2 separate regions of the Homo sapiens genome follow, and region 2 is linked to region 1. The links come from fine-mapping of genetic effects on gene expression. A gene starts in region 1. The other region holds a variant in brackets. All regions are shown on one strand. Distances are between the middles of the regions. Region 1 holds the start of DMRTB1 (DMRT like family B with proline rich C-terminal 1). Region 2 overlaps LRP8 (LDL receptor related protein 8).

Region 1 (5,516 bases):
TGGTCCTGGCTCTGCCCTAAATTTTGTGGTCCCAGGAAGGTGATATGCCCTTTCTGGAGTCCAGCAAAATGAAGGGCCCTTCTAGCATCAGCATCAGTCAAGGAAGGGGTCATCCTGAACGCTCAGAGCCTTTCAGCCCACTGCCCTGAAAAGCACAGGCCATAGCCCAAGCCGAGTGGTGCAGACTGGTCCACACGTGTGCTCCCAGAGACACACACACTGTGCCTGGGCAGTGCCTAGTCCTCCACCAGCACTCGGGGGCTGGCATGGCGTGGGCACAGTTTATGACAGCTGGCTTCCTGGGACTGAGGATCCATCAAGGCAGCAGGGGCAGACTGGGTGGAGGAAGCTGGCAAGAAGTGAGGGGTGGGACTCACCAAGCCTCCGCCTTGGTACTGGCTGCGGGACACATGCCGGAAGCCCTGCTGCAGGGGGACGCCAGGAGGGGCGTCCAGGTAGCCCAGCGGGAACGGGCAGTAGGGGTGCATGCTGGAGCCACCAGGGTACTCAGGGCCCAGTGCACGGTCCGGGTTGATGTTCAGAGGGCGCACTAAAGAACGCAAGCAAGGAGGGAAGTGTTAGACACCGCTGGGAAAAGCATCCGCAGGGCGGCCCAGGGCGGCGGGGTCATCAGCGCTGCCGTCCAAGCACAGAAAGCCCACCCCGCACTTCCTTCCGCTGGGCCCTCACTGCATCTCCATCCTCCAGCCAGCCCCACTGCTCTTGGAAAGTCCTCAGCACGGCCATCAAGCCCGCTGTGGGCCGGGGCCGCCTCCAGACCTCCCCGCTGCCCCACACACCGTCAGCCCGCACTCTGCCTCTCTGAGGCCTCAGTGCCGAGCTCCTCCTCCTCCTCCGGGTCACAGTGAACCCGGCCATGGCTCAAGCCCTGGACACTGATTTGTGTGACTCTTTGATCAACCCTGTCCCTCCCACAAGGACAAGGTCCTTGAGGGCAAGAAATGTGACCCGCGTCCTCCATCACGAATGCCTGGCTCATGGTTCGGCTCAGCCCTGCTTGTCTGTTGAGATGGAAAAAAGAAAGGTGGCTTCTCCTAGATCTGCAGTTTCAGGCCTGTGACCCTGTCAGATGGGACGTTCCCTGGGGACCTAGATTTTCCTGGAAAGTCAGGGGGGCGGGACGAGCCTGCGGGAGCCTCCGGACCAGTGCCCTGGCACACAGAGGGCAGGAGCTTGTCCAGCGTGACCCGGGCCCCCGCCTCGGCCTGAGCCCGTCCCACCACACCACCACGGGGGAGACACCAGGAAAACGCGTCCGCACCAAACCCCGGGGCTTCTAAAGCTTCAAATGTACATGTGACTTGAAACTACTTCAATACCAAAAGCTCCAAGGCACAGGGAACAATGTAATTTATGTACAAGGTGAAGGGAGAAAAGAAAGGCAACATCTTTACTGACCAACTGTTCTCGTGTGTGGAGTAAAGAAGCAGGCTCCCCTCACCTGCACGTGGGGAAACGGAGGGAAGAGGTGCGCAGGCGCACTGGGCCAGGGCGGAGCTGAGGGGAGGAGCCTCCCGACCGCGAACCGGGAGGGAAGAGTGCGCAGGCGTCCTTGCGCTAACGTGCCGGCAGGAAAATTCTGTTATTCTGGAGGAGGAGCCTCCAGCCCAAGGAAATGGCGGGAAGAGGTGCGCAAGAGCAGTAGGACTCGGCTCCTCGAAGCCTCCCCCGGAGGAGGAAGCACTGCTAAGTCGACTGGACGCCATTTTGTTCTTGCATGCCGGAATGGCACAAACTACAGCTAAATGTTAAAAGCCCTCTGAACCGCCCATTCCTTTCTGTTTCTCGTTTCCTTTTTGCGAAAAGTTACCCAATCCAAATCCCTGTTCGAAGAAGGGTTTCTCAAAGCGGAAGGTCCGTTACCCGTGGAAAAACTTCTCTCCACCCCGAACCCCTATGCCAGCTCCCCATCCGGGCTGGCCTGGGCTGCCAGCTCCGGGAGTCGACCGCGGGACCAAGGCCACGACTTACCAAAGTCGGTGAACAGTGGGCCGGGCACGGTCCGCATCGGCCTGCGCAGGTCTAGGGGGCCAGGGTAGCCACTGCCTGCGGCCTCCGCCCCAAAAGGGGGTCCCGCAAGGCTGGGCATCGCCACGGCGGCTCGCTCGCTCGGCTCCACGTGGCTGCGGCCGCCCAGAACCGGCTGGAGGGCTCTCGGGCCGGGGTTCCGGCCCCGCGGGGGCTGCTCGAAGAAGCAAGCGGCCGCGCGGCCCTCGGGTCCCGGGTCGGCGTCTCCGGAGGGAGTCCCCGGGGACAGCGGGCGGAGGCTCGCGGCCGGGACGGGGACGGGGGCGGGGGCGGCGGCCGCAGCCCCGGAGGCCTGCTTGGGCCCCTGCGCACACAGGGCCGCCTCCTGCTCCTCCTCGGCGGCCTGCGTCTTGAGCACCTTCTGCGCGGCCATGATCTTCTGGCGCTCGGAGATCAGGTAGCACTTCTCGCAGAGGCACTGCTTCCAGCGGCATTTGCCCGCGTGTCCCTTGACGGGCACCAGGAAGCCATGGTTCCTGCATCTCGAGCACTTGGGGGTGCGCACCATTTTGTCGGCCATTGGCAGGGTCAGCCTTCGTAACACAACCACCACCTCTGGGAGCTGCAGAGCAAGTGGCGCTGGGATGAGCCGCGCCCCACAAGTCCCTCGTTCTGGGGACATTGGATACACTTGTAACAAAGCGGCTCGCAGTGTGTCCCGGGAACTGCAGCAGGAACCTTGCATTTTCCCTCCTTTTGGGGGGTGCACAGTTTGGAGAGTTTCTGTGCTTTGGGTAATTAGATGCAATGGATTGGGTTGAATAAATTCTTCATGGGATGCTATTGCATGTATGTCATTTAGCTTATCTGAAGTCTTAGGCATGTAATTTTCCAAACTCTGTTCCCGCCACCGACGGAAGGTATTTGTAACTTTATGAAAGGCGGAGTGATATTCAACGGTCCACAAATTTAAAACTCGGGAGGAATGTAGCTCTCGGTGTAGAAAAATACTGTAAGAGGCAAACTGTATTTCTTCTCCCCAAAGCTGCTCCTTCTGTGGCAGTTCACTTCTCTGCCCTGCAGAGATGCTTCCAGGATATTCCAGAATATTCTCAAGAGTTCAGTGCAGTGTGATGGTTGCTCAAGGGTATGCCCTTACAGTAATTCCCGTTTCTTGAGAGTCTTGATGTAGGAATGCATTTCTGGATGTTGATGCCTTCCAAAGTGAGCATACTTAGAATATTTTAAAGTAAAATAGACAGAATATTGTAGCACTAAGCCTGGCATAGTGTCCTGTGCCTGTAGCCCTAGCTACTCGTGAGGATCACTTGAGCCCAGTAGTTGGAGACCAACCTGAGCAACATAGCGAGACTCCTCTTTCTAAAAAATTAAATAAAAAATTCTGCAAGACCCCTCTTTCTAAAAAATTAAATTAAAAAAAATTTCTAGCACTAGCTTCAGTGATTGCTTAACCTCATCATGAACTTCGTTATCCTTGTAAAACAACCCAAATCTTGGGACATCTGAAAAGTTAGCACAAACGTCATAGTTTACCCGAGGGCATTAATTGTTTTTTTTTGTTTTTTTTTTTTTTTTTGAGACAGAGTCTTGCTTTGTCACCCAGGCTGTAGTGCAGTGGCAGGATCTTGGCTCACTGCAACCTCCGCCTCCCAGGTTCAAGCGATTCTCCTGCCTCAGCCTCCTGAGTAGCTTGGATTACAGGCGCCCGCCACCATGCCCAGCTAATTTTTGTATTTTTAGTAGAGACGGGGTTTTCGCCATGTTGGCCAGGCTGGTCTTGAACTCCCGATCTCAGGTGATCCACCGGCCTCGGCCTCCCAATGTGCTGGGATTACGGGCGTGAGCCACCGCGTCCGGCCATTAATTCATTTTTTAAAAACAAATTTGTGACACCCTGAGGCATCTCTCTCTCTCTCTCTCTCTCTCTCTCTCTCTCTCTGTCTCTCTCTCCCGCCCCTCCCCCCCACCACCCCACTGCCTCCATTTCCCTCCCCTCCCCTCTCCTCCCTTCTTTGTCCAAAAAAAGGAAAAAATGGGCCACTAACAAGCTGAAAAGCTTCTAATTAGATCAGTCGCATTTAAGGAGGTAGTTACAGTTAATATGTGGCTAAAACTTGTGCATTTTTCATTGCTCTTTCTTTGAATTTCTCTCTTTCTGTTGGTAGAATGGGAGAAGCCCACGCCTGGTGTCCACCTTGATTTTCCTGAGTCCGTGATTGTAGTTGTACCTTGCGTTTCTCACTAGCTGCCTGGGAATAGGAAATGGTTACCATTGGGGGGCTTATTAGATCTGGAAAGCGAAAAAAGGTTTTAAAGTCTTTTTCTGCTTTAAAAAAAATCATCTTAATAAGAAAGTAAAAGTAGTAAAAAGTTTCCTGTGTTACTTGGCTTGTTAGGACTTCACTGGTTGCTCTGCATCCATTTAAGGAGGACTAGGTTTGTTTCTGCTTTGCTCTAACAACCTCTCACTTAAGTTTTTATTTTAAAAATATGATTAGTGGGCCGGGTGCAGTGGCTCACGCCTGTAATCCTAATACTTTAGGAGGCTGAGGCAGGTGGATCACCGGAAGTCACAAGTTCAAGACCAGCCTGGTTAACATGGTGAAACCTCGTCTCTACTTAAAAAAAATACAAAAATTAGCTGGCCATGGTGGCGGGCGCCTGTAGTCCCAGCTACTCGGGAGGCTGAGGCAGGAGAATCAGTTGAACCCGGGAGGCAGAGGTTGCAGTGAGCCGAGATCGTGCCATTGCACTCCAACCTGGGCAACAGAGCGAGACTCTGTCTCAAGAAGAATCATATATATATATGATTAGTGGCCGGTTGCAGTGGCTCATGCCTATCATCCCAACACTTCAGGATGCCGCGGCAGGAGGATAGCTTGAGCTGAGGAGTTCCAGACCAGCCTGGGAAGCATGGCGAAACATGTCTCTACAAAAATTAGCCAGGGATGGTGACTTGCGTGCCTGTACTCAAGAGGATCGCTTGAGCCCAGAACGTCGAGGCTGCAGTGAGCCGTGTTTGTGCCACTGCACTCCAGCCTGGGTGACAAAGCAAGTCCCTGTCGAAAAAAAAATAAAAAAATAGTTAAAGGACAGGCAAGCTCTTTTTCTGACTCTACCCAATAAAAAATGTATAGCGTTTTTCACTGACCTTGTCTTTTGAAAATGTCACTTAAAAATCATAGTTTCAGTACTGCTGTCGAAAAATCTGGGGCACAAGCTGCATTGTTTCATGACACTGCAAATTGTATTGTTATTTTCTGCATTATCAAATTTAAATTTGAACATCAGGTGACATCGGATAATAAGGCCTAAAAACGAAAACTACTCATTCATATTTCATGCTTGACCACCCAAGCTCTCACTTTCTCATTAATATTAATAATTTAAAGGAAAATTTTCTTCAAAGCAAGCTATTTGAGTTAACATACGTTAGCCTTGTTAACTACAAAATGCTTCCATATTCACTTCATAGCTTCAGAGGCAAAATATACCCAAGGTGATGT
Region 2 (5,000 bases), 150 kb after region 1:
ATTAGAGCATTAAATGGCAGCCCTCTGGGAGAATCCCACCATCTGGCTGTCATGGGAGAGGCAAGAAAATCTATGCATATTTGTCTGCAGTGTGTGAGCATCATATGAAGCCAACTGTGCATGTGTGGGTATGCGGTCTGTGTGCTGCAGTGTGTGTCCAGCATGACATGCGTGTCTGAGTATGTTCAGTATGTGGCGCACACCTGAGTGTGCAAGTGGGTGGTGTGTGCCTTGCTGTATGCACGGGTGCCCATCTGCAAGTACATGCGCTGTGTGCATGTGCCTGAGTGTCTGCACGTCTGTCTGAACATACCTCTGTGTGTGGTCCATGCTCAGGCCTGCCTTTTTGGTGCAGTGAGCCAGGCTGAGCTGTGTGCAGATAGGGAAGGGGCTCGTGACTCCTCCTGGCTGAGGTGGTGGGCACAGACAGCTGTGTAGAAGGTGGGACGGGGTAAGTGTGGCAAGTGCACAGCTGGCCTTCAGTGGGTGAGGCAGGGCAGGCATCCTTGCCCTCATTTGACAGATGGGAAAACCCAAAACTGGAGCCTGGGCTCTGGGGCTCCCTGCGTGGTGCTCTTTCTGTTCCAGCGGGCTGCTGCCCTGGCTGGCACCTATGCTTTTGGCATCTTTATGCTGTTAGATTTTCATGGTGGCTCAAAGTGGTTCTGAGAGAGTACCACCCCCCCTACTCAGTATTGCTCAGGGGGCAAGGTCAGGATTCCCACTGCACATCCTGTGTTCTTCCTGTTTCAAGGAGGAGATATCAGGGCTGCTGGAGAATGCTGGGCCTGATAGTCCTCTGACTGCTGTGTGACCTGGGCCCATCCTGTCCCTCTCTGAACCTCAGGGGTGATTGTAAGAACTAAATGAGGAGACATATACAAAGGGCTTCGTAAACCAGGAGATGAGGTGAGGTGATGTAGACAGATGAGGGCCTGGCCCAGAGATGGCATCACAATACGATCAGAGCCAAAGCTGAGGCCCAAGTTCATGTGTCCCAGGGTTTCCTGAGGAGCAGGCCAGGAGGTGGGACCCAGGACAGAGGCAGGTGCCCTCCCAGCCTTGCAGACTCTGAACCTGTCCTCAGAACCATCTGCCTGGTGCCAGCACTCTCCTCCAACTCCAGCCCCAGACACATGGCTCATGGCAGTGAAGTAAAGCAGGAACAGACCCAGGGAGCAGTGGGATCCAACCCCTCAACTGGTGTTGACGCTGAGGCCCAGAGAGGGGGAGTGGCTTACTCAAAGCCACGCAGCAGCTCGGGGGGTAGAGCTGGGACCAAAACCCAGGCCTCCTGGCCCCTGGCTCTGTTCTCCTTGGTACCATACCACTGTCTTTGGCAAGAGAAAGAGGACACAAGAGCTAGTTCACATGCCTGGAGAAAAGGATGTGGGAGTGCCACCCAGCTAGACAGCACTAGAACAGACCAGAGCCCCACTTCCTGCATGAATGGAGGATCTGAAGCAAGGCTTCAATGATTACTGCTTTTCCTAGGTATGCAGAATGCTGGAGGGTAAATAGGGTTTGTGTCCTGGGCTGTACATTCTGTATAGATGGAAAAGCCCCAGGCTTCCAGATTGCCTGCATGCGATGCCTTCAGCACACGCTTCCTCAGTGCCTGCCTCCACCGAGCTGCTAGTCTGGTAGAGAAAGATGGTTGAGTGCCACCAACACAGGATGATGAGGCTGTGGATCAGAAGAGGTCTCTGATCCCACATGGGGTCGTGGAAAGCTTCCCAATAGAATAGAGAAGGGGAGGAGGGTCCTCCACTCCCAACTCCCAGAGAGTGAGGAATGTGTGCGCCTCAGACACCCTGGCCCCCTGGCAGTCTGGGCCTCATAAGAGCTCATGCTTGGGCAGGCTCACCGTTCACCCTGGA[G/A]TGGGTGGCTGGGTGCCTTCCAGCTTCCTCCTCAGCGCCTCTCCTGTGCCAGGGCCCATGCACGTGGGTGGAGGAGAGGCCATTCTAGAGGCCCCTGGCTCCCTGTGGGGCTGAGGAGAGACTAGTGTGGGGGCAGGGGTGGAGGTGCAGGGAAGCTGGTGGCCAGACCTCCTGTGACCTCCACTCATTGCCTGTGTGTCCAGGTGGGCCAGTCTCAGCTGCCCCGCTTGGCGTTATAACCATTGTGGTGTTAGCCAGGGACGAGGCTTCTGAAGTAGCCTGCACTGTGAGCCCCGCTGGCTGCCAGGTAATAATTCCACCCGCCTTGACCTTTTTCTCCAAGGAACAGGCCTTCTACTTTATACATGGAGAAAACAAGTCACAGAAGAACCAGGTGGCCCAGGATGACAGAGGCTAGGCCTCCAGATGCCCTTTAAAAATTGCAACAAAAACCTCTTAAGGACTCACTGTGTACAAAGCCTGGTGGTGGGGCTGCCACAGCGGCTGGGATAAAGGGAGGAGGAACTTCGGTCACTGAATATTTTCTGTGTGCCATCCCTTATGTCGGGCACTGATAGACGTGATCTAGCAACCAACTGCCCTCCGAGTCAGGATCTACCACCACATTTTTAAATGAGGAAACATGGGCTCAGAGCGGTCAGGTAGCCTGCCTGAGGTCGCTTAGCTAGTAAGGGACAAAGGCGTGATTTGAGTCCTGCGTTCCTTCACCTGTTTTTGTGGGAGAATGGCCATGTCAGGCAGCAGACTGGGATCTTCCAAACCTTAGTTCTGGGAGGAAGGTTCACTTGCAGGAAAAACCAAGGTGAGTGGAATCATCTTCAGGCAGCCAGCAGTGCTCACTGGGCAGGCTGTTTAAAAGTGGCTTCCTCTTCAAGCTGTAGTGGGACCTGTCTTACTGGGGGAGCCATGCTGGCTCAGAACCCCTAGGCTGATGGGCACCCCTCTGTAAGGGGCTCTGAGAAGTGGCCGGTGTGGCTGAGGTCTGGGCCAGGATGCCAGTGGGCGGTGAGGGTTTGCTGGGCACATGACCCCACACCTTTCCTCTTCTTGCCTCCCACAGCCATGTCTGTCCCCTTCTGCCCAGCTCTGGTTGGAGGTGCTGAGCTGGGGCTTGTGGCCATGAACCATCCCCATACTGCTGGCCCTGGGGCTGGCCTCAGATGGGTGGGTGGTCCCGGCCAGAGCCCTGAACCCCGGCCCTGCCAGAACCAACACCTGGAGACATGGCCACCTCCGAAGGTCTTACCTAACTGCAGGGCGTGCCAGCATCTAGCAGGGTCCCTCACGCACAGTTGGCCTGCTGCTTGATTATTTTGGCTTCCAGCAGCAGAGACCTGAGACTTTCCCGGTAGCATAGGAGTCAGCAGAAGCTTGGCCTTCCCAGAACATGGGACCAGAGGAGGTGTCCTGGACAGGGCCAGGTGAGGGGAGGCTGCTGGTGGCCCCTCACTGAGCCTTTCTGCAGTGGGCCTGGGGACCCCCTCTGCCCTGAGCATTTGCCAAGCAGTCCAGTGGCTGCGCGTGGGCCTGCCTTTCCTCCCCCACTTTGGCATGGCTGTCTCCCAGGAAACGGGGAATTTTCCCTCATTCCCATCATTAGGGTGCCAGGGCAAACAAACAGTCTAATCCAGATGAGCCCTGGGCCACAATCACACTCTCTTTGGGGGTTTTCTCTTCACTTGGAGCAATGTTGAGAAGGCTGGAGTAATTGGTATTCCACCCAGGTTAATAGAACTGCTGCCTCCTCGGTATTATGCCTTAATTTCCTTTATCGCTCAGCAAGTTGGAATTCATCGCCCCTTTCCTTTCTTTTTCCCACCGAAACCTATCACCAGCCTGTCTGCTGGGTAAAGTCATTTCATGGCAGCTCTTGGCTCCTTTCCACTTCCCTGGGAGTCTTTCTGACCGAGCCAAAGAACAAGGAGGGGTGAAAAATCCATTTGTACAAAGTGGGGATCTCCTGTTGAGAGCTTATTTCCCTCCCCGTTCAAGAGGAAGGAACGTGTTCAGCCTCCAGCCAGCACGGCTGACTGAGTCCCCTGTCGCTGAGAGCATTCAAGAGGGCGAATGGCCATATGTCAGCGGTGGGAACAGAGGATTCCAGCACTGGTGGGGGTTGGGGGAAAGGGGCAGGCCTTTGCCACTCCTGGTGCCTGGATTAGATTAGAAGCTTCTAGGGTTTTGTTCTGTTTGTGAGTCTAAGATTTGTGATTTAAAACTGGAAAGATTCTGTGGCTCCTTGGTCCTAACGTTCAACGGAATGAGCCTAAGTACTTGTAAATTGTGTGTTTTACGATTCTCAGATCCTGAGACAGGGAGATTCTGTTCTGTGATTCGAAGACTATCTTATGATTCCTCCAGTCTCTTCAGCGGCAGTTTTGTTCCTGACTGGGTCTTGGGAGGAGTGCAATTGCTTTGCTGAGGTTGCCATGGGAGCGCGAGGCTGCTGTGGCCCCTTTTCTCATGTATGAAATCCAAGGGCTGGGCCACATGGCCCTGGGGCCCAGGTGTGTTCAGCCTGCAGCCCCCTTGGCTCCACCAGAGCCTCCCACAGGCCCTGTGAGGACTGGCTGCTCCCCACCACCTCACTGGACCCAGATGCTTTTCCAGCTAAGCCATGCCCCTTGCCTGTCTGCCCCCGGCCCTCTCCCATTCGAACGGGGAGGCAACCCAGCTCTCCCCAAAGTCCCTGTAGGAAAGCTGGAGCAGTGGGGGAGTGGTGGTGGTAAGAAATAAGCCGCATGATTGACAAGAGCTCTACCTGCTTTTGTGGTGATGTGCAATTTCACCATGAATTTCAACATTACAACCTCTCTTAATTCCCACCCTCTGAGGTGGTTAGCCCCATTTTATTGTTGAGGAAGCTGAGGCTCTGAGAGGTTAAGTCACTCACCTATAATCATACAGGTTGTTCCCAGGCCCTGACTCTGGATCACCTGCTGTAGTACGGCTCTAGGCCGCCTGGGCAGCATGATGAAACTGTCTCTACAACAAAAATCCAAAAAAAAAAAAAAATTAGCTGGGTGTGGTGGTGCACGCCTGCAGTCCCAGCTACTTGGGAAGCTGGGGTGTGAGGATGGCTTGAGCCTGCAAGGTTGA

The links. PIP is the estimated chance that this variant, and not a neighbour inherited with it, causes the effect. A credible set is the group of variants that fine-mapping cannot tell apart.
Region 2: its variant is the best candidate, but not a certain one, in a credible set for the expression of DMRTB1 in thyroid (GTEx, PIP 0.63).

Annotation. Positions count from the first base shown.
Region 1 is chr1:53,456,507-53,462,022 of GRCh38, reverse strand. DMRTB1 (DMRT like family B with proline rich C-terminal 1) reads right to left here and starts at 2,624. Exons shown (of 4, transcript NM_033067.3): 1 at 1,993-2,624; 2 at 378-550. The coding sequence starts at 2,569.
Region 2 is chr1:53,302,773-53,307,772 of GRCh38, reverse strand. All of the region lies in intron 2 of LRP8 (LDL receptor related protein 8), which reads left to right. LOC105378726 (a long non-coding RNA gene) reads right to left here. Exons shown (of 6, transcript XR_007066090.1): 4 at 4,795-4,886. Among named protein-coding and RNA genes, the nearest start is that of LRP8, 23 kb to the left of the region's middle. RefSeq lists an enhancer at 1-6. The variant G/A (reference allele first, on the strand shown) is at 1,881.